Linked DNA regions of Homo sapiens: regions 2 and 3 are each linked to region 1. The links come from fine-mapping of genetic effects on gene expression. A gene starts in region 1. Each other region holds a variant in brackets. All regions are shown on one strand. Distances are between the middles of the regions.

Region 1 (10,745 bases):
ATGGTGACGATGATGGTGATGGTGATAGTGATGGTGGCAATGATGGTGATGGTGATGATGCTGATAGTGATGGTGGTGATTATGGTGGTGGCGATAGTGATGGTGGTGATGATGGTGGTGGTGGTGATGATGGTGATAGTGATAGTGATGGTGGTAATTATAGTGATGGTGATAGCGAAGGTGGTGATGATGATGGTGGTGGTGGTGATGATGGTGATGGTGATGATGCTGATAGTGATGGTGGTGATGATGGTGACAGTGATGGTGGTGGTGATGATGATGATGGTGCTGGTGTTGGTGATAGTGATGGTGGTGATGATGATTATGATGATCACGATGGTGATGGTGACAGTGATGTGACAATGGTGATAGTGATGGTGGTGACAATGATGGCGATATAAAGTTTCCATTCATTCATTTACCATTATGTGAGATATCCTACTTTTTCTTCTTCTCTCTGGCACCTCGGTCCCCTTAAGTCTATTGACATTTTCTTATTCTCACTCATAGCTCTTTGGCTTTCAGGGGGAGCCTTTAGGGTCTCCTATGCAGTGGAGAAAGGTAAGGTAACAGGCAGGATGCCACTCCTGTGATGAGCACCAGGAGGAAGGGAAGAGGTCTCAGAGCTGAAGTTGTTGGCAGCTCCCATGTTCAGGGATGGGGGAAATCTCCCAGTCCTCTCACCCCACAGAGCTCTCAGACTGTACTAGTTCGTTTTCACGCTGCTGATAAAGGCATACCTGAGACTGGGCAATTTACAAAAGAAAGAGGTTTAATGGACTCACAGTTCTATGTTGCTGGGGAGGCCTCACAATCATGGTGGAAGGTGAAAGGCACTTCTTACATGGCGGCAGATAACAGAAGAATGACAGCCAAGTGAAAGGGGTCTCCCCTTATAAAACCATCAGATCTCGTGAGACTTATTCACTACCACAAGAACAGTCTGGGGGAATCATGGGGGAAATCACCCCATGATTCAATTATCTCTCATGGGTCCCTCCCACAACATGAGGGAATTATGGGAGCTACAATTAAAGATGAGATTTGGGTGGGGACACAGCCAAACCATATCACCCACATTCTCCCCAGGCCAGAAAGGCCCTACTAGGACCTCAAAAGGAGACTGCATGCATGGGACCTAAGGGGATCCTGTTCCTATTGGGAATCCCAGCGTCTTGGGCCCTATACCAGGCCTCTGAGTTCCTGATCCCCTCACTGCTGGCCCACTGGAGAGTGAGAGTCCCTGTGGCTGCTTCCTTTCCTAGAGATTTCAGGTGAGCTTACCGTGTCACATGAAGGTTTCAGGCCCTGCTGTCGGACTCCCCCTTCCTGGCTTCTCCTTAGCTCCAGAGGTGGAACTGAATACAAGTTGGGAGGAACATTCAGTCTATTCCTCCTACTCTCTACCAATTTTTTTTAACAGCTGGTAGACCAAGAAAGCATGTCTGTGGGCCATCTATTTACACATTTTAGTCTTGCATATTCTTTTTAGGAATAATATGTTATTTTGTTTGTTTTTTGAGACAGTCTCGCTCTGTTGCCCAGGCTGGAGTGCAGTGGTGCGATATCAGTTCACTGTAACCCCTGCCTCCTGGATTCAAGCGATTCTCCTGCCTCAGTCTCCCAAGTAGCACGTGCCTCCACACCCAGCTAATTTTTGTATTTTTAGTAGAGAGAAGGTTTCACCATGTTGACCTGGCTGGTCTCAAACTCCAGATCTCAGATGATCTGCCCACCTCGGCCTCCCAAAGTGCTAGGATTACAGGCGTGAGCCACCATGCCTGGCCAGGAATAATATGTTATTGTACTTATATGGATGTACCTTAATTTATTTGACCAGACCACCTCCCAGGTTTTAATTTTTAATATCATACCATACAAGGTATTGTCTTTATAGATTCTTCCCCAGCCTGCCACTATTATTCTAAATTTGCAATACCCGATTCCCAAAGCTCCACGATGATAATAATAACAATATGACCATTTACTGAGGGCCTGTTATGTGCTAAGGTCCAGTTCTAGGACCTTATCTGTATTAACTTATTTAAGGTGTAGTACAGCTTTATTTTCATCCTGATTTTACAGACAAGGAAACTACGTCTCAGAGATACTGTATGACTTGTTGAAGGTCACACAGCTGGTAGGTGATGGAGCCAAACTTCAAAGTTCTCATGTTTTTCTCCATCCTATTATACACAGAGAATGCTGTGTGTCAGACTTCCAGTTCGGGGTTTGCAGTGTACTAACCATACTTCCCTTGCCAGGAGAGCTTAGCCACCTGGATTCAGATACTGGTAAGGCAGTCACCTTTCCCCAGCAGTGTAGAGAGGGCAAATGAGATAATGCACCTGTAAGTACTTCAAAACTTTTAGCATGCCGTACAAACAGAAGGGATAATTAAGAGATTATTGTGGACTATGCAGATAACCTTGTTTATTTAAAGCACCTTAGCCCATTGACACGTGTGGAGATGTCCAGAGACCTGGTCAAATCCTCAAATCGAATATTGCCGACAGCAGAAGAATTTCTCCCATAAAATGCCATAATGTGTCATTTAAAAATGTAAGTAACTCTTGGCCAGGCCCGGTGGCTCACACCTGTAATCCCAGCACTTTGGGAGGGCGAGGCAGGTGGATCACTTGAGGTCAGGAGTTTGAGACCAGCCTGGCCAATGTGATAAAACCCCACCTCTTTTAAAATACAAAAATTGGCCAAGCATGGTGGTGTGTGCGTGTAATCCCAGCTACTCAGGAAGCTGAGGCAGGAGAATAGCTTGGACCTGGGAGGCAGAAGTTGTAGTGAGCCGAGATTGCACCACTGCACTCCAACCTGGGCAACAGAGCTGCATCACAAAAAAAAAAAAAAAAAAAAAAAAAAAGAAAAGTAAATAACTCTTTAAAATGTTTAATGATTACATAAACACAAGGCATAAAGCTATAAAGATTTAAAAAAAATAGAGACAGAGTCTTGTTCTGTTGTTCAGGCTGGTGTGCAGTGGTACAATCATAGCTCACTGCAGCCTCAAACTCCTGGACTCAAGCAACCCTCCCACCTCAGCCTCCCACCATACCTGGCTTATTTATAAGGATTTAAAGTTAGTTGTGAGTGCTGTCTGGAGCACTTGCTGAAACTGTTTTGTGAATCAGTTTTTCTTAATTTCTTAAAACTGAATGAGGAATAAACCCTGTGTGAACTGGATGAGCCAAAAACCTGTTCTGAATTCTAGTCCACTCTTTAGTGATTCAAAATTCCCTATTTCTGTCTCAGAAACATTGCTTTCTTTGGATTCTCCAATTTCTCCTCCCTTCTATTTCAATACTAGTGTTTGGCCTTTTTTTTTTTTTTCTTTTTTTTTTTTCTTTTTGAGACAGAGTCCTGCTCTGTTGCCCAGGCTGGAGTGCAGTGGTGTGATCGCAGCTCACTGCCACTTCAGCCTCCTGGGATCAAGCAATTCTCATGCCTCAGCCTCCTAAGTAACTGGAATTACAGGCGTTCACCACCATGCCTGGCTCATTTTGGTATTTCTAATAGAGATGGAGGTTTCACCATGTTGGCCAGGCTGGTCTCAAACTCCTGGCCTCAAGTGATCTGCCCACCTCAGCCTCACAAAGTGCTGGGATTACAGCCTCACAAAGTGCTGGGATTACATGGTGTGAGCTACCATGCCAGACCTAGTATTTGGCCTTCCCGTTTTTGTTTTTTTTTTTTTGTTTTTTTGAGGCAGAGTTTTGCTCTTGTTGCCCAGGCTGGAGTGCAATGGTGCGATCTCGGCTCACTGCAACCTCCGCCTCCCGGGTTCAATCAATTCTCCTATCTCAGCCTCCCCAGTAGCTGGGATTACAGGCGCCCGCCACCACACCCAACCAAGTTTTGTATTTTTTAGTAGCGACAGGGTTTCGCCATGTTGGCCAGGCTGGTCCTGAACTCCTGACCTTAGATAATCTGCCTGCCTTGGCCTCCCAAAGTGCTGGGATTACAGGCATGAGCCACCGTGCCCAGCCATATTTGGCCTCCTATGGGAGGTCATTTCCACAAACAAGCAAGACTTTCTAATCATTTTCCAAGGATTACAAAATCTTGACTCATAAGTGATACAAATTCATGGCATGATTTGTAGTATTTGTAGCAAGTGACAAATAATACATATTATGTGCATTCAAGGTTGTCAGGGAGTTGGTTTTTGTTTTGTTTTGTTTCTGAAACAGGGTCTTGCTCCGTTGTCCAGGCTGGAGTACAGTGGCACGATCATAGGTCACTGCACCCTTGACCTCCTGGGCTCAAGTGATCCTCCCACCTCAGCATCTCAAACTGCTGGGACTGTAGTTGTGAGTCACCGTGCCCAGCCTTCTGGGGAGTTTAGATCTGTGACTAAGCAAAAAGAACAAATCTGGAGGCATCACTTTACCTGACTTCAAACTATACTATAAGGCTATCGTCACAAAAACAGCATGGTACTAATATAAAAATAGGCACAGAGACCAATGGAACATAATAGAGAACCCAGAAATGAAGCCAAATACTTACAGCCAACTGATCTTCAACAAAGCAAATGAAAACAAAGTGGGGAAAGGACAGCCTATTCAGCAAATGGTGCTGAGATAATTGGCAAGCCACATGTAGAAGAATAAAACTGGATCCTCGTCTCTCACGTTATACAAAAATCAACTCAGGATAGATCAAAGACTTAAATCTACAACCTGAAACCATAAACATTCTAGAAGATAACATCGGAAACATCCTTCTAGACGTTGGCTTAGGCAAAGACTTTGTGACCAAGAACCCAAAAGCAAATGCAACAAAAACAAAGATAAATAGATGGGACTTAATTAAACTAAAAAGCTTCGGCACTGCAAAAGAAATAATCAGCAGAGTTAACAGACACCGCACAGAGATTGGACTTTGGGGACTCAGGGTAAAAGGTGGGGGGTGGCGAGAGATAAAAGACTACACACTGGGCCAGGCGCGGCGGCTCACGCCTTTAATCTTAAGGGATACCTGAGCTCCTTCTAGGAGGTTCTGATTCAGTAGATCTGGGAGAGTCAAGAATCTGTAATCAGCTGATCTCTATCAAGAGCTGATTTTGGGCTAGCTCACGTGCTAAGTGTTTGGTAAGTTCATGTTCTCAGTTTATATCTTCATGACGATTTGAGCAATGTCAAGCCATAACCAATGTCGTCAATGACACCCCCGTTTTACAGATGAGGAAACGGAAGCTAAGAACATCCAAAAGGGTTTGTTGGGGGGGGTGGGGAAAGCTGCTAAAAAAAGTTATGCAACTAGTACACCTAGTAACTGGTCGACTGGAGATTCCAACTCAGGCCCAGCAACTCCAGACCCCACTCTCTCAATCACTGTGAGACATAAGACTTTTGGGGGAGCTTCTGGTGATTTTAGTGATTAGTCAGCTTTTCGCAAAGCCTCCTAGAAGCCCATGCCACTCTCAAAGGGTGCATGTGTTTGAAATTTATGGCCCATCCCCCTCCAGTGTTTCTGGAAGGAAAATAGTGTAGAAACAAGATCATCGGAGGGAATACGACGAGCAGCTGAACCTCTTATCAGCATTTCCCAGCCTTTGGGCTACTCCGCGAGGTCCTGGTCTCACAGGCGGACCCAATCTGGGAACCAAGGGAGAATCTTTCTGTACACCTGGCACTTCTCGTCACGCCCCGTCCCCCGAACACCCAATCCAAAGCCCGTTGGGCACGTCTGATGTCCACTCAGAGCAATTATAATTGGCCATGGCGGACGATCGCTCCGCCTCCCGGGCGACCCCGCCTCCCTTTCATTCTGAAAGAAAGAACCTCAGCCTGGGCGTCCAATGAGAAGCGCCTTCACCTCAAAGATCCCGCCTCTTTCGGCGTCGACCCCGCCCCGAGGCCGGAAGGGATGCCCGCCTCCCTTGGCGAGATGAGCCAATCGAAGGGCTCTCACGGCCAGATGGACGGCAGCCGGCCCAATCCGCCGGGCCTCACGCGGCGCCGCCCGCCCCTCCGCCGGGCCCGAGTGGCGGCCGGGCGACGAGTGCGGGCCTCGGAGCGACTGCAGCGGCGGCGGCGGACGCGGCCTGAGGCGAGCGGCGGGGCGTGGGGCGGTGCCTCGGCCCGGGCTCGCCCTCGCCGGCGGGAGCGTCCATGGCCCCCGGGCGCCGGCGGGGCGCGGCCGCGGCCTGAGGGGCCATGTCCGGGGTGGTGCGGACCCTCAGCCGCTGCCTGCTGCCGGCCGAGGCCGGCGGGGCCCGCGAGCGCAGGGCGGGCAGCGGCGCGCGCGACGCGGAGCGCGAGGCCCGGAGGCGTAGCCGCGACATCGACGCGCTGCTGGCCCGCGAGCGGCGCGCGGTCCGGCGCCTGGTGAAGATCCTGCTGCTGGGCGCGGGCGAGAGCGGCAAGTCCACGTTCCTCAAGCAGATGCGCATCATCCACGGCCGCGAGTTCGACCAGAAGGCGCTGCTGGAGTTCCGCGACACCATCTTCGACAACATCCTCAAGGTGACGCGCGCCCCCCGCCCAGCACCTGCACCCAGGTGGGCCGGGGCGCTAACCCCCGCCCCGGGCCCCTCCGTGGTCCGCCGCCGCGGGCGGGGACCCCTGGGGCGAGGATGCTGGATCCAGCCCCGCCTGCACCCCACTCCCCCCCGACCCATTCCCCGAGGCCTGCTGGCGTCGTCTCTGCCCCACCCCGTCTCGCCCTTTTTGAGATGGGGTCTCGCTGTGTTTCCCAGGCTTGAGTGCAGTGGCGCCCTCACAGCTCACTGCAGCCTCGACCTCCCAGGCTCAAGCCCTACTCCCTCCTTAGCCTCCCGAAGTAGTGGGATTACAGGCGCGCACCACCAGCCCAGCTAATTTTTAAGTTTTTTTTTGTAGAGATGGGGTCTTGCTGTGTTGCCCAGGCTGGTCTCAGTCTCCTGGCCTCAAGTGATCCTCCTGCCTTGGTCTCCCTCAAGTGCTGGGATTATAGGCATGAGTCATGGCGCCCGGTCTGCCTCTGCCCTCTCTAGGGTGCCTGGGGACCGTGGGAGTGGGAACTCGGGCCAGCTTCTGGGGATGGGGAGTGGGGGCTTGGCACTTAGCCCCCTCCTGGATGTGCCCTAGCAGAATGGTATCTGTCCATTTCCCACTGGAAGATTTGTGGGATAGGAGCCCAACCGGCCGTGCCCTCCGGCTGAGCTTAGAAGAAGAGCAGTGGAGACTGGACGGGAACCAGCCATGAGTCTCTTTTTACTTTTCTGTTTTTTTAGAAAGGCTCTCACTCTCTTGCCCAGGCTGGTCTCAAGCCATCCTCCCACCTGGGCCTCCCAAAGTGCTGAGATTACAGGTGTGAGCCACACTTTCTAATACGAAAACTTCAAATGTATACAAAAGTAGAGAAAATAGTAGATTGACTGTAAAGTACCTACAGCCCAACTAAAGCAGTCATCAATTCTGTGCCAATCCTATTCACCTGTGCCCTCCCCATGGTCTCCAAGCAAATCCAACTTTGTGTAGTTGGATTAGGAAACGTTTTAGGATGTATATGAGTGGCTAAAAGATGAGGCCTCCATGTAAAAACACAACCGCAGTACCATTAGCAAACCTAAACATTAGTAATAGCTCATTATCACCAGATATCCAGTGTTCAGAATTCCTCCATTGTGGCATAATTGTTTTGTGTGACTCGACATGCATTGCAATGAATCTCCAGATTCTCCTGTCTCTTGCTTCCTTTTTTCTCTTCGCCATATTTGTGAAAGAAGCTGTAGAAGTCGGCCAGGTGTGATGGCTCGTGCCTGTAATCCCTGCACTTTGGGAAGCTGAGGCAGGAGGATCACTTGAGGCCAGAAGTTTGAGACCAACCTGGGCAACACAGCAAGACCTCAGTGCCACAAAAATGAACACATTAGTTGGGCATGGTGGAATGCACCTGTAGTCCCAGTTGCTTGAGCGGCTGAGGTAGGAGAATTGGTTGAGCCTGGGAGGTTGAGGCTGCAGTGAGCCATGTTTGGGCCACTGCACTCCAGCCTGAGTGGCAGTGAAAAAAAATAAAAGAACCATAGAGTTGATAAAGTCGGGGTTCCAGTCTCTCAGTACCGTGAGCCTGTGTTAAAGGGCCTCAAGGAAGATCTGGAGGAAACTGATGATGAGGGAACAGTGCAGCCTTGCTTACACCTAGATAGCGTCCTTTGTCCTCCCTCCCTTTTTCCTTCCTTCCTTTCCTTCTTTTCTTTCCTTCCTTTCTTTTCTTCCTCCCTTCCCTTCCTTCCTTTCCTTCCTTTCCTTCCCGCCTTCCTTTTCTTCCTTTCTTTCTACCTTCCTTCCTTTTTTCTTTTCTTCCTTCCTCCCTTCCTTTCTCCCTCCCTCCCTACCTCTCTACCCTTTCCTTGTCCCCTCACCACTTTTTCCCCAGCCCATTTTGGGGAAACCAAGTTAGAGGCGAGGACAATCATCTCAAAGCAGAGTCGGAGAGAAGTTTGCCATGCCAGAAAACCTGCCTGGAGACTAGGTTTTATGGTGCCTGGGAGATTTTAAATTTAGCAAAGCCCCGTAGAAACCTATCGGGTACATTTGTATCACTTACCCATAAGGACTCCTGCCTCAGCCCTAGAGATGAAGTGACTCCTTCCTGGGGTCTCTGTGCTGGAATCCTGGCCTCCAGACTTCCAGGCCAGTATTCGCACTTGACATACTTCTCATGGAAATGTTTCATTTTAATAGAGCTCCTTTAGGATTGTGAAGGGAAGAAAATAATTTGATAAAACACCCTTTTTCATTTTACCTCTTTCCAAGCCTCTCGGTGCGTCAGAGCTCTGGTCAGATACTTCGTGAACTTTGAAGACTAGGTGCCCAGCTTAGCTCACTGGGAGCGTCTGTGTTCAAGTGCATTTGGCTGTCTCAGGGCCTGCCCTGTAACTTCTCTGTTAAAGATCCTGATTTTATTGTTGCTGCTTGCCCAGACCTCAGAACCAGGCAGGCATAAAAGTATAGCAGTTTGACTGTCTCTAGTTTCTTCCAACTCAGTAGATGGAGAAAGTATTTGGAAACATAGAATCTGAAATCTAAATCCCTGTATGAAGTGCGTGTTAGAAAACTCAACCTCCTGGCAGGAGAATGGGGTGAACCCGGGAGGCGGAGCTTGCAGTGAGCCGAGATCGCACCACTGCACTTTAGCCTGGGCAACTCAGCGAGACTCCGTCTCAAAAAAAAGAAAAAGAAAAAAAGAAAACTCAACCTCCTGATGCATAGAAACACTAACTTCCACTGACTTTCTTATCAGCAGAAACAAAATGTGTTAACTGGTATCCTAGTTCTTCTTTCCAGCTTTGTTTTTTACTAATTATAGTTCCATATTAAACTCACTTCATGTGTCGTGACCATTTCAATAACAAGTTAGAAATTCATCTTTCAATTTAAAACCAAAAATCGTTTCCTCCTCTTCAGCCCCCACCCCCGCATTTTTATTCGAACAGATCACTTTGAGAAGAGACTATTTTATTTTTTTATTTTTATTTTTTGAGACAGAGTCTCATTCTGTCACCCAGGCTGGAGTGCAGTGGCAGGATTATGGCTCACTGTGGCCTTGCGTCGCCTCGTGGGCTCAAGCAATCCTCCCACCTCAGCCTCCCAAGTAGCTGGGACTGTAGGTGTGTACCACCACACCCAGCTCATTTTTGTAGAGATGGGGTCTCACTATGTTGCCCAGGCTGGTCTTGAGCTCTTGAACTCAAGCGAACCACCTGCCTCAGCCTCCCAAAGTGCTGGGATTACATGTGTGAAATACTAAACTTGGCCAGGGAAGGGACTTTAAATAAATTGCTCTGCAGTGCCTTTAGTACTGGACATTTGAATGATACCATTTAGAATAATACTTGTGGCTATATAGAGGGTTAGTGTTGACAGGCTCCTTCTAGAGCACGGACTGTGTGCTGTACACATCGTGCCTGATCCTTTCAAATATGGTGTTGAATTTTCATAATGCTTCAGATGGTATTACCTCATTTAGTGAATGAGGAAATTGAGGATAGAGACATTAAAATCTGTTCAAAGTCAGCTACCTAATTAGCAGATGGCAGAGCTAGGAACTAAACATGCCTTTTTTAAAAATTAAACTTTTGATTTTGAGATAATTCTGGAGTCCTATGCAGTTGTAAGAAATAGTAGAGATCCCACATACCCTCTGCCAGCTTTCCCTCAGTGATTATGTTCTGTAGAACTAGATAGCACAATCTTACAACCAGGATATTGACGTCGATACAGTCACGATACAGAGCCTTTCCATCAGAGAAGGACCCTTCATGTTGCTCTTTTGTAGCCACTCTCTCCCCTTCCTGTCCCAGACCCTGGCAGTGAATAATCTATTCTGTTGTTGTTTTGAGACAGTCTTGCTCTGTCGCCCAGGCTGGAGTGCAGTGGCACAATCTCAGCTCACTGCAACCTCCGCCCCGGGGTTCAAGCGATTCTCCTGTCCCAGCCTCCCAGGTAGCTGGGATTACAGGCGCCCACCACCACGTCCAGCTAATTTTTGTGTATTTAGTAGAGACGGGGTTTCACCATGTTGGCCAGGCTGATCCCCAACTCCTGACCTCGTGATCCACCCGCCTCGGCCTCCCAAAGTGCCAGATGTGAGACGCCGTGCCCCGCCTCTGTTCTTTAATTCGATAATTTTGTCATTTCATACATGTCATGGCCAGGTGCAATGGCTCATGCCTGTAATCCCAGCACTTTGGGAGGCCAAGACAGGCAGATTGCTTGAACCCAGGAGTTCAAGACCAACCT
Region 2 (10,745 bases), 22 kb after region 1:
AACAATACCGGCTGGATGTGGAGGCTCATGCCTGTAATCCCAGCAGTTTGGGAGGCCGAGGCAGGAGGATCGCTTGAGCACAGCAGTTCAAGATTACAGTAAGCTAGGATCGTGCCACTTCACTCCAGCCCGGGCTGTTGACAGAGTGAGACCCTGTCTCTGAAAAAATAAAAATAACTATTGTCTACAGCAAACATTAGTTTAGAAACTGCATTGGTGATAGTTATTTTATAGTACAAATCCTTAGGAATATAATTTAGCTGTCCAGTAGTGATTATTTAAAGCCTTTTCTCCCTGTATTCCTCTGCAGTTTTCAGGAAGTTTTCATTTTGAATTGTAGGTGTTTTAATTTCTGGTTTGAATCTTGCTTTACAATTTTTGTAATCTTGAATATTTTTAGAATGTGTAAATATCTGCCAAGGAGACCACAACATCTTCGGCATTTTCTTTTTTAATTGGAAACTTGTCTTGTTTCTTAATTCTTGGTAACTTCAGGAAAAGAGCCACCAACTTGCCTGAGTTCTTTCCTGTTATCTGGAGCAAATTAGAACTCTTCTGGTAAAGTAAGACGCCCTTTTTCTAGTCTTTCATTAATTAAAAAAAATTTTAAATAAAGTATCGGGGGTAGGGAGAATGTTTCAAATGTAGGTGTTTTTGAAGTAGGTTAAAAGACTTCAATCTTGAATTGAGTCTTCTAAAAAAATTTGCGCGATGTTTTTGTAGTTAATTAGCAATACCTCATGATAGATATACATGAATATTTTCTTTGGTATGTTTTTATAATTAGGTGATTCTTTCCTTCATTATAACTCCTTTCTCTGAGTGGTTCTGACATTGGTCCTGCCATCTGCCCTATTCTAAGTCATGTCCTGGTGTCACTGCAGTCAGGAGTCCTGTTCTGTCCTCTGCACTGCTCACGGACCAGCCCAGCCCCACTGTCCTCAGCGTGGTTATGCAGAAGCCACTGTGGTTCCCTTCCAGTCAGTTTGGTGGTTATTCCCTCAGTTTAGGTGCCTTCAGTCCGGGCCACAGTGCTTGAATTCTCACGCGACATCACAGACTTCACCTGACCAGCTGAAGTTTCGTTAATACAACCTTTCTGTTTTCACTCTGTTTTTTAAAATAATCGAGGTAAAATTCACATACCATACAATTAATCATCTGGAAGTGTACATTCAGTAGCATTTAGTACATTCACTGTGTTGTTCACCCACCACCTCTATCAAATTCCAAAACGTTCCAATCACTCCAAAAGGAGATCTGGACACGTTAGTAGTGACTCCCCATTCCCTCCTTCTCCCGGCCCCTGGCAACCACTAATCTGTTTTCTGTCTCCATGAATTTACCTATTCTGAATATTTCATATAAATGGAATCATATAATATGTGACCTTTTGTGTCTGGCTTCCTTCACTTTTTTAAAATTAATATACTTTATCACTTAATTTTAGGTTTACAGAAAAACTGAGCAGAAAATACAGATTTCCCACATACTGCCTGCCTCCCCCACACCAGTTTTCCCCTGTGAGTAACATCTTGCATTAGTGTGCTAGGGTTGGGAAAGTTGTGAGTGAATATGAATATATTATTAACTGAAGTCCATAGTTTGCATTAGGGTTCACTCGTTGTGTTGCATAGTTCTGTGGGTTTTGACAAATGTCTCCACCGTTATGGCATCATTCAAAATAGTTTCACTGCCCTAAAAATCCTCCTTGTTCTACCTGTTCATCCCTCCTTCCCTGTCTCCCCTCAACCCCTGGCAGCCTCTGAGCGTTTACTGTCTCCATCGTTTTTCCTTTTCCAGAATGTCCTGTAGTTGGAATCAGGAATATGTAGCCTTTTCACATGGGCTTCTTTCACTTAGCAATACATATTTAAGGTTTCTGTGTCTTTCCGTGGCATGTTAGTTTATTTCTTTTCATTATGGAGTTGTATACCTTTGTATGGATATACCACACTTTGTTTATCCATTTACCTGCTGAAGGACATTTTGGTGACTCCTAAGTTTTGGCACTTATGAATAAAGCTGTGGTAAACACCTGTGTGCAGGCTTTTGTGTAGACATAAGTGTTCAACTCATTTCAAGTGCAGTTAATTGCTGGATTATATGGTACAAGTATTTGCTTTTGTTGGTTTTTTTTTTTTTTTTTTTGAGATGGAGTCTCACTCTGTCACCCAGGCTGGAGTACAGTGGCGTGATCTCGGCTCACTGCAACCTCTGCTTCCAGGTTCAAGTGATTTTCCTGTCTTAGCCTCCCAAGTAGCTGGGATTACAGGCATCCACCACCAAGCCTGGCTAATTTTTTGTATTTTTAGTAGAGACAAAGTTTCACCATGTTGGCCTGGCTGGTTTCAAACTCCTGACCTCGTGATCTGCCCGCCTGCGCCTCCCAAAGTGCTAGGATTACAGGTGTGAGCCACCGCCCCCGGCCCGAGTATGTTTAGTTTTGTAAGAAACTGCCCAACTGTCTTCCGGAGTTTGCATTCCCAGAGCAGGGAATGAGAGTTCCTGTTGCTCCACTTCCTGGCTACCATGTGGCATTGTCTGTTTTGGATTTTAGCCGCCCTAAGAGGTGAGGAATGGCATCTCAGTATTTTAATTAGCAGTGCCCTAATGATATATGGTGTGGAGCGTCTTTCTATGTGCTGGTTGTCCCCTGGGTGGTGGGAATGCTGGGATGAACGCTGGAATGAGCGTACTCTAAAGACTTGTTCTCTTCAGCTGCCGCAGCTGCTTTGTGTCTGCGGCCCCACCACAGCCGTTTCCCTGGCTTCTCTGTCCTGCATCCTCCTTCTTTCAGTGTCCTGGACGCAAACGCCAGCACACGTTTTCTCAGGCATTTTTCATAAGGCTGCTTTCCTGTTTACAAAACTATAGCGGCCCTCAGCCTCCCATCAGCTCGATACCTTCTCAGCCAGAAATGACCACAGTAGCTGTATGATGGCACAAACGCACTTCTCCTCCTCTCTGAGATAGCTCCCTTCTCTCCAGCACCTCCTTCCCTAGTTTACATCTTCTTCATGGCGTCTTCATATTATGTGAAATGAAAACACACCCCTTTAGGGAAAAGAGGAAAGCGTCTTCATACACTGCTGGGGGCGCACATGCTGGGAAGCTTCTGTCCGCCCCTTCCCGCCCTCTCTCCTGCTTCTGTCAGCTCTCTGCTCTTGGGGTGACCTGTATAGATTGTAGCAGCGAGTGTTGTGCTTTCTGGCTTCTGGTTGGCCAGTGGGAAGTCCTGGCAAGAGCTCGGAGGGAGGGAGGGGAGAGAGTGAGGTTCAGTATTTCTTCTCCCCTCCCACGCCCCAGGATTCCTTCTGTCTTGTTTCTCGGGCTTCCCCCACACCTTTGTGATTAGTTCCTAATTTGAGTGTCCTGCTTGTTTCCTGTTGGGTGCCTGGATTTAGGATGTAAATTGTTGTAACCTGTCTTTTGGTGGCAGTCTGATGTTTAGAGATGGTCATGGAGTCTTGGGTACTACCCAGAGCGAGATCTAGGAGGAGGCAAGCCAGGTGTCTGTCCACCCGCAGGTGCAGACCTCACCCTCACGGGGCCTGAGGGAGAGGGGCCTCCTCCCTTGTCTTTAGTCGGAAAGTGGTTCTTGGACTTCCTGTGCCTGTGGTCACCTGGCCATGCTGTTCAAATGCAGATTCTATTCAGTAGGCCTGGGAGGTCTGTGAGCTCCTAGGTGATGGCTGTGCTGCCACCGGCCCTCAGCTACGCTTTGAGCAGCAGGGATTTTTTTATTGCGGTTTGATTTGCATTGTTAAAATCCTGGAATGACCTAATCGCCACCTGTTGGGGCTGACTGATTGAACTGTGGTGTGTGATGGGCACTACACAGCTTTTAATAAGTCGGTGAATCAGCTGATATTTATCGAGCACCTTCTGTATATCAAGTGCCCGGGATACATCATTGGAAACAAATGCTTGCCATGTAGAGCTTACATTCTAGTGTGGGAAACAGACGATCCACAGGGTAAACAGGCACGTCTTATGAAATGTTAGAAAGCAACAAGTGCTGGGGGCAGGAGAAAGCAGGGCGAGAGCGTGTCCATGTCAGGGGTGGCAGGGAGCCGCCTGCAGAGGTGATGGGGAGAGCACCCCAAGTGCAGAGGCCTCCGCAGACCCAGAGGAGCCAGTGTGATGGCTGTGTAGTGAGGGAGGAGACCCCTGGATGGGCAGAGGCGGGTGCAGGCCACTGGGAAGACGCGGGCCTTAACTCTGTGTGTGAGGGGCTCTTTGTCCCTGAGGATTTCTGCAGAGGAGTGGCAGGATCTGACTTGGACATTCACGGGGTTGCCCTGGCCACCCTCACTGAGGGAGACCAGGTGGACGTGGGGGCAGTGAGAGGCTGTCATCCTGATCTGTGGGACCAGCGTGTTAGGAGTGGAGATGCTGGGAAGCGGTCAGATCCTAGAAATGTTGTGAAAGTGTTGATGTTGAAAATACCATTTTTGAGACAGGCAGACATGGGTGTGATCTGTTCAACTGGAAAAGGAGTCAACTATCTTTTAGGAACCATGTTTTGAATGTGAGCAAAAAGAATGGTGGTGGCATATGGTAATGACACTAACATGTAATGAGCGTTTCTCTCTAATTAAAGGGGATTTATTTTTATTGCCCTTATCTCTGTTTTCTAGAATGCGCATTATTTTCATGGGAAAAAGAGTCTTAGAAAAGACATTGCTTCTTTCTCTAAGTAATTTTACTGCATGATCTTTATTCTATGAAGTTTACTCATTTGCATTGGGTTTTATAGATATTAGTAGGTAGTTTGTGCTTTATTATGTCTGCAACATGCTTTTTTAATTTTTAATTTTTTTTTTAGCTTGCCTAGCCAACTAGAATGAAAGATCCTTTGACATTGAGTATTGCATTTTTATTTTTCCTGTATTCCAGCTTGTAACAGACACTTCCTAAGTGCTTATTGAACGAATTGTTCTAATTCTTTTAAGCAACGACTGGCCTCTTCCCGAACAGTTTTATTTTTCTAAATCTGCAGAGGGTTATTATTAGCATGCTTGAAAGACCAAAGAATGATTGTCTAATTCTTGAAGGTTCTCATTTGTTCTTCCTTATGCCCTCTGTTCCTGTTACCTTCCCCAAGCACTCCTCCTGCATATGCCGTCAAAGTCCTGAATTGGGGCTGCGGTTGAAGTTGGAGTGTCAGAACACGCTTTTGCCCTTACTGCTATCAGCCTTCAGTCAGATAAGTAGCCTTTTTATATAAATAGTTCCCTCTTGTCTCTGTAGAGCTGGGGAAGGCG[G/A]GGTCCCTTGGGTTTGTGTGTATGCTGGATGAAGCAGACAGAAGGGTTCTTCAGGGTATGGGGCCGTCTCTGGACTACACCAGGAAGCCTGGAAAAGGCCCTCCAACAAAGCCTGCCATAGATGATGCCTCGGACCCCACGTTTTTAGTTACAAATAATATACAAATAGTTACTGAGAATTAAAGTTACTTTCTTCAAGGCCATCAGAGTGGTTGGTAACTGTAATGTCCCTGAAAGACTCAGTGTCTTTAATCTCCTAAACCATGTTGAATTCCAGTAATGGGAGGCCAGGGAATGGGCAGAGGACTGATAGTGAATCTAGGGAGCACCTTTTTATCACATCTAGGAGGGGGCTGAGCAGACTCTCTTAGGGACTGAGGGGGTTGAGTGTTTATCTCCTTCAACTCCTTTCCAAGTCATTGTCTTTAAATCTTTCTTTTCTTTTGGAAACGGAGTCTTACTCTGTCGCCCAGGCTGGAGTGCAGTGGGGCGATCATAGCTCGCTGCAGCCTTTACTTTCTGGACTCAAGTGATCCTCTCAGTTCAGCCTCCTGTGTAGCTGGGACCACAGGCACGCACCACCACGCCTGGCTAATTTTTCTGTAGAAACAAGGACTCACTATGTTGCCCAGCCTGGTCTCAAACTCCTGGGCTCAAGCAGTCCTCCTGCCCTGGGCTTGCAGTCCTTTTTCTTTTTGTTGATTGAGGCTGATCTCACGCTCTTGGGCTCAAGCAGCCCTCCCACCTTGGCCTCCCAAAGTGCTGGGATTACAGGCGAGAGCCACCACGCTTGGCCCTTCAATCTTTATCAGGGTTTGAGAAGGGGACTTCCATAAGATATGTCTTAGATTGGGGAGGTTAAGAGTGTGCCAGGTCTCAGGCCCACCTAACTCAGAACTACCACTCTTAGTTACTGGACTGTCTACAGATGCTAGTTCCAGTAGGTAGATCTCTGAATTCTGAAGAAATTGCCCAGTGAAGCCTGACATGCAAAACAACCACTCCAGTCGCTGCCGCTGTATGGTTGAAAACGTACGAAGAACAACATCTCGGAGGAGGCATAGCTTCCCACAGAAGCTTCAGAATTTGTAGGTTTAGATAAAAAGTTAAAAGAGAATGGGAAGGCTAAGCACATTCTAACGTTTTTTAGCTAGGTTTGTTAAGAAATGTTGGTGGTAATCTGAATCACCCTTGTTGATGTGTATATCACATTTTACATAGTTCTAGTCATCACATCCTGGAATGTCAGCCTGGGCGGGCATGCGAGGGCCTGGTCTGATTCCCCTGTGTCCCTAGGGCCTGGCACCATGGCAGCACATAGTAGGCATTTGAGTATTTGTTGGATGCATAAATAAATTCTTGTAATAAATACAGGAAAAAGGTCTTAGGGAACTTGAAAGCCAAATTTTAATATTGATGATCTTGTAAACAAAGTATTTTTCATGTTTTAGTAACATGAAGGTCAGGATTCCACTAAGCAGGAATATGGTGTAACCTCATGTTTCCTGGCAACTAGCCCTTTGCTACTAGACTTGCCACAGGAAGGGAAAGAGCTTACCTAGCATTGTTCATCACTGTCTTGCTAAGGTGGAGGAAAACGAGGAGCAGGGAGCTGAGAAAATAGAATAACTGCAGGAGTTTCTCTTGTCCATAGGGCACACCGTTTGGGGTGAATTGTTTTGCTTGGGGCCACCCAGTGAGTTCGTTTGGAGTTGCAAGCCTCGCTTCCTTATATAGAGTCATTGATACAATTGGGGAGTTTCCTGAGTGGATGATTAAAGCAGTTCTGTATTCATTCTTCTCTGTAAGTGCCAACACCTGGCCGTGATTTCTCTGCGGTCAGCTGGAGACTGACATCCATTTTCTCACAGTATTTACGAGGGAAGGGAACCCTGGTTGGTGAATTCATTCTCATGGTCTTTTTGCCCGAGTCAGCAGCAAGACAGTCACCTTGCCACGGGAGGCAGCGTGTCCCTGTGTTGAACAGGCGGAGAGTCTCCCCTCAGGATACAGCAGGAGTGATTGGAATGATTCTGTTTCTCAGCCTGTCTTGCAGAACATCTGTAATCTAAGCGTCATCACAAAAATTCTTAAGCCAAGAATAAGCAGAACATTAACCAGAGAATAATTGATTGGCATCTTTCACCTAGACAACATTTTTGTGAAATGGGAGTGATTCCTGTGGAGTTTTGTCCATGTTGATGAAAACATGGATGTAGGCCGGGCGCGGTGGCTCACGCCTGTAATCCTGGCACTTTGGGAGTCCAAGGCAGGAGGTTTCTTGAAGTCAGCAGTTCAAGACCAGCCTGAGCAACATAGTGAGATCCCATCTCTATCAGAAATTTTTAGAAATTAGCTGGCCATGGTGGTGCATGCCTGTAATCCCAGCTACATGGGAGTCTGAGGCAAGAGGATGGCTTGAGTCCAGGAGCTTGAAAGCTGCAGAGAGCTGTGATTGCACCACTGCATTCCAGCCTGGGTGACAGAGTGAGATCCTGTCTCTAAAGTAAAAAGTTTTAAAAGACACAGTTGGAGTTTCCTCTTTGGAAGATTACAGGGCAGAGGCCAGGGTGGTCAGTGAGTCAGGAGCTGGTGACTGGCCGGTGGGGCAGGTCTGGACAACAAGCAGCTGCCACACTGTGTGTCACTTCCGTGCTCTGTGCTTTACAGCGCTTGGGACTTTCTTTTTCAATTTTTTAGCTTTTTTAATTTTATTTTTTATTTTTTTGTAGCGATAGGTTTTGCATGTCTCCTGGGCTAGTTTCAAGCGATCCTCTCACCTCAGCCTCCCAAAGTGCTGGGATTACAGGCATGAGCCACCATGCCTGGCCTCAGCTTAAAAAAAAAAAAAAAAAAGCTTTATTGAGCTATAACTCACATATCATACCATGCCCTCATTTAAAGCCTACAATTCAGTGGACTTCAGTCTATTTACAGAGCTGTGCAGCCATCACCACAGTCAATTTTTAAAACATTTTCATCACCCCAGAAAGAAACCCTGCAGCCACTGCACATTTTCCTCCTGCCCCAGCCCCAGCCCCGGGCGGCCACCAGCCCACTTTCGACACCGTGGATTTCTCTCGACGCTGTTGATTTGCCTTTTCTGAACATTTTATGTAAATGGAATCATACAGTATGTTGTCTTCTGCGACGGACTTCTTAGCATCGTTTCTTCAAAGTTCATCCATGCTGTAGCGTGGCATCGTCATCCCTCTAAGCGGCCGAATAGCATTCCCTTTTGCTACGCCCCGTTTTGTTTATCCGTGCCTCAGTCAGTGGCATCTAGGTTCTTTCCATCTTTTGTGTGTTATGAATGATGTTGCTATAAACATCCATGTGCGGGTTTTGGTGTGAACATGTTTTCTCTTGGGTGTATTCCTAGGAGTGGAATTGCTGAGTCAAATGGTTGCTTTATGTTTAACATTTTGACGAGCTACCCGAGTGTTTCTGAATTGGCCGCAACATTTCTGTTCCCACCAATATAACGTCTTTGGGGTCTAACCGTGCTTGTGTTTATCTGTCCTTTGAATTCCAGCCATCCCGTTTTCGGTTTGCCTTTCCTCGATGGTGAATGAGGTATAGCATCTTTTCATGTGCTTATGGGCCATTTGCGTATCTTCTTTGGAGATATGGCTATACAGATCCTTTGCCCATTTTTTTAATTTGGATTATTTGTCTTTTATGCAGACTAGGGAATTTCTTAAGGGGACTGCTTTTGGTTATTGTGTTTCTCACTTATAAACTCACCTTTCAGTAATGAGTCACATACACCTCCACAGCTGTTTTGGTTTTCTGTTGCCACTGTAACAAATTACCACAGGCTTCGGGACTTAAAACATTTATTTGTTAGCTCCTAGTTGCTTGGGTCAGAGGTCTGGGCACAGTGTGGCTCAGTTGGTTGCCCTGAGTGTCATGAGACTAACAGGAAGGTTCCAGCCGGACTGTGTTCCTTTTTGGAGGCTCTGGGAATGCATCGGCATCCAAGTTCATTCAGGTTGTGGCAAGGGTTCAGGTCCTTGCAGCTGTAGGACTGAGGTCCGGTTTCTTTTCTGACCTCCCTCGGCTCCTGGAGGCCTCCCTCCAGTCTTGCTTGCAGCCCCTGCAACTCAGAACCAGCAGCGAGCGGCTCACAAGGAACCTGCCAGACTTTTCCACCTTCCACATCTGCTTGTAAGGACTGGTGACTCCATCAGGCTCGCAGGGTAATCCAGAATAATCGCCCTATTTTAAGCTCAGCTGATTGGTAGCCTTAATTACCTCTGCAAAGACCTTTCACCTAGGTTCCCAATTGATGAATACCCCCGGCCATCTTTAGAATTCTGCCCGTGCCACGGGCTTGTGGCCTGCCTTACAGCCTTCTAGTTACAGGGGACCATGAAAGGGTTGTGAGGCTGGTCAGAGAGAGTAAGTGAAAACGGCAAGCGAAACCTGTGGGAGAGGCCACTTTGAGTCGCCTCCCTCCCTTGTTCGTTTGTCCTTTGCTTTTTTTTTTTTTTTTCAAGTTAGGGTCTCTGTCACCCACGCTGGAGTGTAGTGGCGCGATCTCGGCTCACTGCAACCTCCACCTCCTGGGCTCAGGCAATTCTCATGCCTCAGCCACTTGAGGAGCTGGGACTACAGGGCTACGCCACCATGCCCAAATATTGTTTGTATTTTTATTAGAGTCGGGGTTTCACCATGTTGCCCAGGCTGGTCTCGAACTCCTGACCTCAGGCAATCTGTGTGCCTTGGCCTCCCAAAGTGCTGGGATTACAGGCATGAGCCACCGCACCAGGCTTCCTGTTCTTTATTATAAGTTGTATTTTCTTTATTACAAGCTGTAGTTTGTCTAGCCTCTAATCAGTGGTTCTCCGTTGGAGAGACTATGCTCCCCAGGGGGACATTTGGCAGCGTCTGCAGGCGTGTTTGGTTGTGACACTGATGGGTGCCGCCGGCATCTGATGGTTGGAGATGCTGCTGACTGTCCTGCAGTGTGTGAGGCGCTCCAAAACAGAATTCCCCAGCCCCCAGATGTCAGTACTGATGTGGTAAACAAACTTTGTTCTATGTCAGATGGCCAGTTTTTTAATGGCAGAATTACACTATTATGTAAATAATTGATGTTCTTAATGATGACTCCCCCCAGAACCTACAAAACCCTGACATGCCTGTTAGCTGTGTAGGGAGTCATTCCGTGTTCATTGAATTAATTTTAATACGTTATAGTGAACTACAGTCCCACTTGAAACATTAAGAGCAATCTTACAGTGTGCTAGTACTTTTTCTTCTTTTTTTGTTTAGTTTCCTAACTATGAAAGCAGGTGTTCTAATACATTTGGAACTAATAATTCATGTGTAGTGTACTTATGGAGACTTAAAAATAAAACTAAAGGGAGGGAAGGAGGAATGGAAGGAGGAGATGATAATTAACAAAGAATTCCTTATTCACAATTAATAGATGACAACATTTGTCATAACTTTAGATGTTTCTTCTAT
Region 3 (10,745 bases), 74 kb after region 1:
CCTGAGCAAGGATTGCTGAAGCCCAGGAGGTTGAGGCTGCAATGAGCGGTCTAACCTGGATGACAGGGTGAAACCCAGTCTCATAAAAAAAAATCAAAAGACCCATTGTTAGCCCCCAGGGCTATACTTGCCAGCTGTGTCCAGGGCCTTCCCACCAGGGGAGCTGCCCCATAGCCACCGGCAGTTTCTGTCTCTCCAGCTGGCAGGCAGAATGGCTGCATTAAGCCTAGCTGTACGGACCTTTTCCACAGTACGGGTCTGGGCCCTGTGCCCCTGGGTAACCTGTCCAGGTAGTGTGAGGGATGAAGGGAGGGGAGGACTCTGCCAGCTCTGTGGGAGGCTCCTTAGGTGATTCTGAGCCTGGCCTGTATTGAGAGCCACTGATGAGCCTCTGAGGTCTCTTCCACTTGTGACGTGATTCGGAGCCTGGCCCTCTGCTTTAATTCATAGGCAGAGTTTGATGGCAGATATCTTCTCCTAAGAAAGCCCGTCACGTTAGAACAGGCTGTTGGGTAGGACACAGGCGTTTAGTATCCAAGTTTCGCAGATGCCCATAGACCAGGCAGCTCTGTTTTGCTTCTGCGTTTATGAAAAGAGCTGGCAGAGTGCTTCGGCTCCAGGCCTTTTCGAGACACTGGGCACGACGTTCCTCCTGAGCTGCTGTGGCTGAGATAGAAGGGATCAGCAATGGAGGCTTTATTTGCAGATGATTTTCCTCCTCTCGGTTTGTCGTTCCCACTCTTCGTCTTCCAGAACCTTTTTAGACCCCATGACTTCAATCCTCATCACCCAGGACATTCAGGCTGGCTCTGTCTCCTTCCCATCAACTTAATATGACCGTATCTAACCCTAAATGAGGCTGCAAAATTAAAAGCAGCATACTAGCACCAGAGAAAGGATATCTTAAGCCTATTCAAATCAAACCTCAACACCCTGGAAGCTGGCGCAGCGGCTGCCTACAGAAAGGAGAGCTAGGGAGCTGAGACACTGGTTTCTCTAGCGTCCTCCTCCCCTGTTACGAATTTGGTACTCTGTGCATGTATTGTCTATCCAAAAACTTGAAAGATGTTAGTCATCCTCAGTAGAGGGGAAGTAACTCATCACATAGTGAAAAGTCCAAATTGTTTAACTCTTTAAGCCACGTCTGGTGCCACCAAATTGGGAAGGGATGTCGGTAAATTAAATTGTGCAATTCATACTCTTTTGAGAATATTATTAATATTGACTCTCATATCTTGACTGCCTGCTGTGCCAACCACTGTGCATGAGTCAACCCAACCCCAGGTAAGAAGGTGGCTCAGTAACACAGATAGCTGCGTAAATATGTGACAGTGTTTAAAAGGGGGGAAAAACAAGTACCCTGGGCTTTGTACTTATGTTTATTCTTAGACGTGCCTGATTTTATTTACCTTTGAAAGAAGTTATATAAAAAGGAAGACAAACCTGTAAGTGCAAAAGGAATGAAGATTCAGTGACACGTGTTGACTGTAGGTTCTCAAACCTTGTACTTTTTTTGACCCTTATATCATTAAAGCATTCGACACATTAGCAACCTGGACCCCCCCTTTGCCTCGGCAAGCCCATCTCCTGCTCCCCTCCTCTCTGTCACTGCTGCAGGCGCACTGGCCTTCCTGCTGCTCCCTGCACACTCAGGGCCTCCCAGCGCCATCAGGGCCCTTGTGCTTGCTGTTCCTTCTGCCTGGAATGCACTTCCTCCTTTATCTCATCAAGGTTTTGACTCAGATGTTATCTTCATGAAATCTTACCTGACAATCTTGATTAAAGTCAAAACCGCACCCACCACTACCTATTACCTTTCCCTATTTCATTTAAAAAATGTTTTTATTGGAGAATTACATATATATACACACATATATATGCATGCATGTGTGTATATATGCATATACATGTATAGAAATAAAAGTGCATCTATATTAACTCAGTTTTCACAAACTGAGCAGATTGTGTGACCTGCCGCCAGCTCAGGAAACAATGACCTGTGCCCCAGAACCCCTTTCATCTTCACACCACCTTCTGCTCTCCAGAAGTAACCAGTTCTGACCGTGAACACCAGCTGTTCTGTAGAATGGGTATTTCTGCGTTGCTGCTTCATCTGTGGCCTCACACGGTATTTACTCCTGTGTTACTGGCTCCTTCTCGTCGCCATTTCGTTTTGTGCGGTTCTTCCAATTCTGCGGCACGTTCTTCCTTGTTGCTGCATGGTAATTCCATTTTGTGAATGTCCCGCAATTTAGTTCCCTGCCCTCCTGGTGATGGGCGTCCGGGTAGACGCCAGCTCAGCGTCATTACAAAAATGTTACTGTAGGTATTCAAGAACCTGTCTTTTGGTGAAGAGATGTAGGCATTTCCCTCAGGGCTGTCCAGGGGTGGACTTGCTGGGGCATCCAGGTGTGCCTGGGTTCAGTGTTCATGGATTTTTCACAGTGTTTGTATTTGTGCTCTACCAGCAGAGGCCAAGTTCCCATTACTCCACCTCATCACCAGTGCTTGTCCTCTTTTTCAAATAGCCATTCTGGTGGCCGTGTAGAGGTATCTCATTCTGGTTTTGTTTGTTTGTTTATTTTTGAGACTGAGTCTCACTCTGTCGCCCTGGCTGGAGTGCAGTGGTGTGATTTTGGCTCACTGCAGCCTCTGCCTCCCGGGTTCAAGCAATTCTCCTGCCTCAGCCTCCCGAGTAGCTGGGATTACAGATGCCCACCACCACGCCTGGCTAATTTTTGTATTTTAGTAGAGAAGGGGTTTTGCCATGTTGGCCAGGCTGGTCTCAAACTCCCAACCTCAGGTGATCACCCATGTCGGCCTCCCAAAGTGCTGGGATTACAGGCGTGAGCCACCGCCCCCAGCCTTGTTTATTTGTTTTAATTGAAGTATAATTTCTGTGTGCAAAATGCACAAATCTTAGGTGTATACAACACAATGAGATTTACGTATGTATCTACTCACACAGCCACCACCCACGTGAAAGAACATTTCAGCATCCAAGAAAGTCCCTCCCGCTGCTTCCCCATTGATACCACTCCTCCTGGTGACCACGCTAGTTTCACTTCCATCACTGTAGATTAGTGTTTTGCCTGTTTTTGAAGTTTGTTTAAATGGAATCGTTTAGCTGGCTTCTTTGCTTAATGACTGAGAGATTCATCTGTGTTGCTACGTGGATTGGTATTTTCTTCTTTTTTCTTTATAGCCTTCCATTAAATGAATACACCATAATTTATTTCTTCTCCTGTTCACAGACATGGTGTTTGTTTCTCGTTTTTGGCTACTGTGAGTAAAGCTGCTTTGAACATTCTTGGACAGGTCTCTTAATGGATATATGCACTGATTTCTCTTGGAAATATACCTAGGAGTGGGATTGCTGGGTTTGCCAACTATTTCTCCAAACTGGCCGTACTGGTTTATAGTCTCTCCAGCAGTGTGGGACAGTTAGTCCACGTTCTAACCAACACTTGGCATTGTCCTCTTGATTTTAAGCCTCCTGGTGGGTATCAATTGATGTTTTACTTTGCATTTCTAAGTAAGAACTTTCCTGACTAAATAAGTTTGGCACCTTTTTCTTTTTTTTTTTTTGAGATGGAGTCTCACTCTGTTGCCCAGGCTGGAGTGCAGTGGTGCGATCTTGGCTCACTGCAAGCTCCGCCTCCTGGGTTCACGCCATTCTCCTGCCTCAGCCTCCCAAGTAGCTGGGACTACAGGTGCCCACCACCACGCCCGGCTAATTTTTTGCATTTTTAGTAGAGACGGGTTTCACCATTTTAGCCAGGATGGTCTCGAGCTCCTGACCTCGTGATCCGCCTGCCTCTGCCTCCCCAAGTGCTGGGATTACAGGCGTGAGCCACTGCACCCAGCATGTTTGGCACCTTTTGTACATCTGTTGGCCAGTGGGATATCCTCTTCTATAACAGGTTTGTGCAAATCTTTTGCCCTGTTGGGTTGTTGGTCATTTTCTTGGGAATTCTCGATATGAGTCCTTTGTCAGATTATCCGGAATATGTAAAGAACTCTCAAAACTCAAGAAAACAATTTTTTTAAAAGGACAAAAGATTTGAACAAAGAAGAGATTCCTGAAGCAAATAACACATGAAAAGATGCTCAGTCGACGTCATCAGTCATGACACACATGCAGTTGAACACCGTGGTGAGACACCACATGCTCTCCTAGGAGGCTGCCCTTTGGAAGGCGACCACCCAAGGCACAGTGAGGGCGGGGGTGGGAACTCAGGCTCTCACACACCCCTGGTAGAAATGTGAAATGGTACTCCTGCTTTGGAAAAGCGGGGCACTTTCTTAAAAGTTAAACATACAATTATCACATGAGCTAGCCCTTCCACATGTAGATATTTACCAAAGAGAAGTGAAAATATTTGTCCACACAAAGACTTGCACACACATGTTTATGGCAGCTGAACATTGGGAACGTGGCCATCAACAAGCAGATGGATGAACAGACTGGGGTGCACCCTTCTGTGGGGATACTGCTCAGCCAGGAAAGGGAGCACCTGGTAACCTGCAGCATATGGGCGAATCTGGAAAGAATTGTGCCAAGTGCAGGAGGCCACACAAAGAAGGGAGTGTCCTCTAAGATCTGACTTACATGAGAATCTAGAATATGCAGACCAACATGGAGGGATAGATGCCGACCACGGGTTGCCTGGGCAGGAAGGGAGTGCAGGGGAGGGGAAGGGCTGATAA[G/A]GCCACAGTGGGAGTTGTTTGGGTGTTTGCTCATGATCTTGGCTGTTATGATGGTCCCACAGCTGTATGCATATGTCAGAAGTCATCAGACTGGGCAAGTTCACTATGTGCGGTTTCGTTTTTTTGGTTTTTTGGTTTTTTTTGAGTGGCAGGGAGTCTTGCTCTGTCGCCCAGGCTGAAGTACAGTGGCGACATGTCAGCTCACGGCAACCTCCACCTCCCAGGTTCAAGCGATTCTCCTGCCCCGGCCTCCCGAGTAGCTGGGATTATAGGTGCCTGCCACCTCACCTGGCTAATTTTTGTATTTTTAGTAGAGACGAGGTTTCGCCATGTTGGTCAGGCTGGTCTTGAACTCCTAACTTCAAGTGATCCACCCACCTCAGCCTCCCAAAGTGCTGGGATTACAGGTGTGAGCCACGGCGCCTGGCCTTTTCTTTGATTTTAATAATTTGGTTTACTAAGTCTGTTCCCTGTCCATTTGCTCTGCAAGGAGTCATCAGAGCCTGGCGCTTGCAGTACCCCCAGGTCCACGTTTAGATGATCTTAAAACATTGCCATAATCTTGCACGATGGCCTTGCACTTAGGCAGTGCCAGTATTCCTATGGTATACAGTGAAGGGGCATTCGGTTTCAGTAACTCTGATTTGTAATCGTCCTACGTGGAAACACAAAGCAACAAGCACAGGATCCCATTAGCTCTGCTGCCCAGTGAAGCATCCATGTTGCTTTGTTTTTGTTTGTTCTTTTTCTTTCTTTCTTTCTGTGTGTTGTTTTGTTTTGTTTTGTTGTTGTTATTGTTGTTGAGATGGAGTCTCACTATGTGGCCCAGGCTGGAGCTCAGTGGCTTTTCACAGGCACGCTTATCGTAGCTCACTGCATCCTCAAACTCCTGGGCTCAAGAGATTTCCCCCACTTCAGCCTCCTGGGTAGCTGAGACTACAGGTGTGCACCACCACGCCTAGCTAACTCTAACTTAATCTAATGCCAACTCCAATGGACAAGCATTGCCCTGTCACAAGCCTAGCTGAACTATGTCAGAATTGAACTCTTTGAGCTTGATATGGTTCTAGAGGCTATTGAGCCTCAATTTGAGCCTAAATTTAAAATTGTGTGATCATTTAATTTAATTTCCAAACGGGACATGTTTATAAATAAAACAAGACCCTATTAAACAATTTTGCCAAGATGATTGACTCAAATTGGGACTCTCCAGGGCAAGTGGGGCATATGGTTATCCTGTTTATAGTATATTATGGCAGTGAACCTCAGTAAAGTCATACATTGTAGGTTTGTTTATTTGTTGCTATCTATGCAGTTGAATAATGTTGAGGATATATTTTATTTTCCTCACAGTACCAGGCCAGTCTATAGCTTGAATTGAATCTTAGCTCTGCATGTCACTATGATCTATTTTATTGTAACTTCCTATTATAAACCTTTAATTTTATAAAAGCAATTTTGAAAAAGTACTTGCCCCCCCATGATTTAAAAAAACAAAAACACTTAGACTTAAAATGTAATGACATATCACTTTTCACCCATCAAATTCAGAAAAAAATTCAATTGATAATATCCAGTGTGTTAAGGGTATAAAGAAGTGGGTATCTTAAACCCTTGTTCATTAGGATATAAATTGGTACAACCTTTTTGGGAGAGAATTTGGCCAGAGCTGTGTTTTTTTTGTTTGTTTGTTTTTGTTTTTTCTGAGACAGAGTCTCACTCTCTCACCCAGGCTGGAGTGCGGTGGTGCGATCTCGGCTCACTGCAAGCTCCACCTCCCGGGTTCGTGCCATTGTCCTGCCTCAGCCTCCTGAGTAGCTGGGACTATAGGCGCCTGCCACCACGCCCGGCTAATTTTTTGTATTTTTTTTAATAGAGACGGGGTTTCACCGTGTTGGCCAGGATGGTCTCAATCTCCTGACCTCGTGATCCGCCGACCTCGGCCTCCCAAAGTGCTGGGATTACAGACATGAGCCACCGTGCCCAGCCGGCCAGAGCTGTTTTAAAAAATTAATATGGATACTCTTTGACCTAGCTGTTCTATTTACAGATACCTAGCTTACAGACATAATTATACATGTCCCAGAAGTGGTGTGCATGAGGATGGTTTCTGCAATGTTGATGGTAGTAGCAGAAATTAAAACTACGTAAATACCTGCCAGTGATGCTGTTTAAGTAGAATACCAGATGGCTATTAGAAGGAATGAAGGTCCACACAGAAACAGCTCTAAGGTGGCTGGGCATGGTGGCTCACGCCTGTAATCCCAGCACTTTGGGAGGCCAAGACGGTTGGATCACTTGAGGTTAGGAGTTCGAGACCAGCCTGGCTACCATGGTGAAACCTTGTCTCTACTAAAAATACAAAAATTAGCTGGGTGTGGTGGTGCACACCTGTAATCCCAGCTACTCAGGAGGCTGAGGCAGGAGAACTGCTTGAACCCAGGAGGTGGAGGGAGCCGAGATCAGCCCGGACAACGGAGCGAGACTCCATCTCAAAGAAAAGGAAATATATCTAAGGCATGGTAAGGGTAAAAACCAACTTGGAAAACAATCAATGTGTAGTAGTTTATCCCATTTATATAAACCAAACAAATCATTAAAGTGTAGATTTCTCCACATACAATATACACATATTAAATACAGAAACAAAGGTAGAAAAGTGTATGCCAAGTTGATAACAGTGATTAATAGTTGTGGGAATGAGTGGGAATGAACTCTCCTTTATCCATAGGTTTACTGTTTTTTTTTTTGTTTTGTTTTGTTTTTTTTTTACCTTGAGAGCATATTCACCTGTTACCTAATTTTATAACTGAATTAATTTTCTAAATGTACGTAACTGCATTATAACCATTTTGAAAGAAAACTTATTAGCATTAGGTTTTACTCTAACCTTTGTTTTCCTGAGTGTTACATCCATGATTTTAAGGGCATGTCTCAGGACTCTAGGATGTGATTTCATTTCACGCAGTCCTCGAATGCAGTTAGTGTTTTTCTGAGTTCTCTGAAGCAGAGAAATACTAGGAAAAACGTAGCTTGCTAAGCCAGGACCTCAAAAAGGAAGGCTACTGATCTTCACTGGATGAAGTGACATGACTTTGAAGCTGAGAGATCCAGGTTTGAATTAGCAATTCCTTAGTCACTACATTTGCTGTATTTAAACTTGGAAAACAGAAACCATTTCCGATCACTTATTTGGCAGCAAAACCTAATCTAACTCAATTTGGACTTGTTTAGTAGCAAAGCCTGGCCTCACATACCCGTGGCCATTTATAGTCTCCATTAGGTCTGTAAGCGGTAGCTCATGCCTGTAATCCCAACACTTTGGGAGGCCAAGGCAGGTGGATAACCTGAGGTCAGGAGTTCGAGACCAGCCTGACCAATATGGTGAAACCCTGTCTCTACTAAAAATAAAAAAATTAGCCAGGCATGGTGGCATGTGCCCGTAGTCCCAGCTACACAAGAGGCTGAGACAGGAGAATTGCTTGAACCCAGGAGGCGGAGGTTGCAGTGAGCCGAGATTGTACCACTGCACTCCAGCCCGGGTGACAGAGTGACTCCGTCTCAAAAACTAAAATAAAATAAAATATAGTCTCCATTAGTACAACTGTTCACACACACAAATCTATGTTATTGTAGAAATATTCTCAGATTTTATTTACGATGAGGATTTGGTAATGCATAGCATATGTACCATGTTATCTTTCCAAAATCTGAAAGTTTCTGAATTCCAAAATATATCTGGTGCTAAGGGTTTAAAGGTTAGGAGTTACAATACAAATGAAGAAGTAAAAAACTTGAAACGCGCCAGCCAAGAGTTGATTTTAAATAAGAAGACAGGGAAACAGTTGTTCTTGTGTGTGAGAGAGGGTACTATAAAGGGTATTCATGTCACAGTTGTTGATGGCAGCAAAACACTGGAAATGCCCCCAGGTGGCTATCGAAAGGGTCACATAAGTGATTGTACATTTATTCAGTGGAATGCAGCATAGCTATTTTTTTTTAAGTACCACAACTCTTATACTGTATACAAAAAATAACTCAAAATGGCTTAAAGACTTAAACATAATCACGAAAACTAAAACTCCTAGAAGAAAACATAGAGGGAAAGCTTCAAGATACTGGATTTAGCAGTGATTTCTTGGGTATGATACCAAAAGCCTAGGCAACAAAAGAAAACATAGACCAATGGGAGCACATCAAATGTAAACATTTTTGTGGGTACAGGGACACAATCAACAGAGTGAGAAGGCAGCCTATAAAACGGGAAAAATATTTGCAAATCATATATGTGAAAAGAGTTAACATTCAGAATGTATGAAGACTCCTACAACTCAACAAGAAGCAAAGTTAAATAACCCAATTAAAAAATGGGCAAAGGGCTTGAATGGACAGTTCTCCAGTGAGGATAAGCAAGTGGCCATCTAGCCTATGCAAAGTATCTCAGTATCCCTGATGGTCAGAGAAATGCAAATCAAAATCACAATGAGATACTACCACACATCCATTAGAATGGCTACTATCAGAAGAAAAACAAAATAACAAGTGTTGGTGAGGAATGGAGAAACTGGAACCCTTGTGCACTGTTGGTGGGAATGTAAAATGGCACAGCCATATAGTAGGAAGAGACCCAGATGCAATCCAATAGTGCCTCCTCGGGGTATTTATCCAGAAGAATGGAAAGCAGGGTCTCAGAGATATTTGCACACCCATGTTTATAGCAACTTTATTCACAATGCCTAAGAGGTGGAAGCTGGCCAGGTGCGGTGGCTCACACCTGTAATCCCAGCACTTTGGGAGACCGAGGTGGGTGGATTGCTTGAGGTCAGGAGTTCAGGACCAGCCTGGCCAACATGGTGAAACCCTGTCTCTATTTAAAATACAAAAATTAGCTGGGCATGGTGGTGGGTGCCTGTAATCCTAGCTACTCAGGAGGCTGAGGCAGGAAAATCGCTTGAACCTGGGAAGCGGAGGTTGCAGTGAGCCAAGATGGCACCACTGCACTCCAGCCTGGCGACAGAGCAAGACTCCGTCTCAAAAAAAAAAAAAAAAAGGCGGAAGCAACCCAAATGTTCATCAATGGATGAACAGGTAAACAGCATGTAGTACATACACACAATGGAATTTTAGCCAGCCTTAAAAAGGAAAGACTGCAGCTAACATACTAGCTACAACAGAGATGAACCTTGAGGATATTATGCTAAGTGAAATAAGCCAGTCGCAGAAGTATGATTCTGCTTATGTGATAACCTGAAGTAGTCAAATGCATAGAAACAAAAAGTAGAATGCTGGTTACCAGGGGCTGGGCAGATGGGGGGAAATGGGAGTTGTTTAATTAGTGCAAAGTTTCACATTTGCAAGATGAAAAAGTTTTGGAGATCGGTTTCACAACAACGTTAATATGCTTAACACCACTGAACTGTGCATTTTAAAATGATTAAGATGGTAAATTTTATGTCAATATGTTTTTTACTACACTTTTTAAAAAAGTGGATGTGGAGCCGGGCGCAGTGGCTCGCGCCTGTAATCCCAGCACTTTGGAAACTTGGGGGGAGGGGAGGGGGGCCCTGGATCACGAGGTCAGGAGTTCGAGACCAGCCTGGCCAACATGGTGAAATCCCCATCTCTACTAAAAAACAAAAATTAGCTGGGTGTATTGGCACACGCCTATAGTCCCAGCTACTCAGGAGGCTAAGACAGGAGAATCGCTTGAACCCAGGAGGCGGAGGTTGTGGTGAGCCAAGATCATGCCATCGCACTCCAGCCTGGGTGACAGAGTGAGACTCTGTCTCAAAAGCAAAAAATAAAAAGAAGAAAAAAAAAAACAAACACAGGATACAGAACTCCCTACCTCGTCTTGCTGGTTTTCTTTACCTTTAATTGAATGTTGGAGTCACAGGATTAGGAAGTGAAGCTCTCAAGTTCACAAAGCACCTGCTCTTCCCTGCGCGCTCATTCATTTAACAAAGTCTTCCTGTTGTAGGCTGGGCGCGGTGGCTCAGGCCTGTAATCCCAGCATTTTAGGAGGCCGAGGCGGG

Evidence for each region. PIP is the estimated chance that this variant, and not a neighbour inherited with it, causes the effect.
Region 2: its variant is fine-mapped to the expression of GNA12 in left ventricle (GTEx, PIP above 0.99).
Region 3: its variant is fine-mapped to the expression of GNA12 in whole blood (TOPMed, PIP above 0.99).

The regions. Positions count from the first base shown.
Region 1 is chr7:2,839,593-2,850,337 of GRCh38, reverse strand. GNA12 (G protein subunit alpha 12) reads left to right here and starts at 6,030. Exons shown (of 4, transcript NM_007353.3): 1 at 6,030-6,485. The coding sequence starts at 6,177. RefSeq lists enhancers at 5,537-5,666, 5,649-5,943, 5,906-6,723 and silencers at 5,837-6,166, 6,507-6,556.
Region 2 is chr7:2,817,783-2,828,527 of GRCh38, reverse strand. All of the region lies in intron 1 of GNA12 (G protein subunit alpha 12), which reads left to right. Among named protein-coding and RNA genes, the nearest start is that of GNA12, 21 kb to the left of the region's middle. RefSeq lists enhancers at 3,425-4,067, 6,142-6,831, 6,832-7,521. The variant G/A (reference allele first, on the strand shown) is at 5,271.
Region 3 is chr7:2,765,403-2,776,147 of GRCh38, reverse strand. All of the region lies in intron 2 of GNA12 (G protein subunit alpha 12), which reads left to right. Among named protein-coding and RNA genes, the nearest start is that of GNA12, 74 kb to the left of the region's middle. RefSeq lists an enhancer at 3,172-3,221 and a silencer at 4,558-4,702. The variant G/A (reference allele first, on the strand shown) is at 4,711.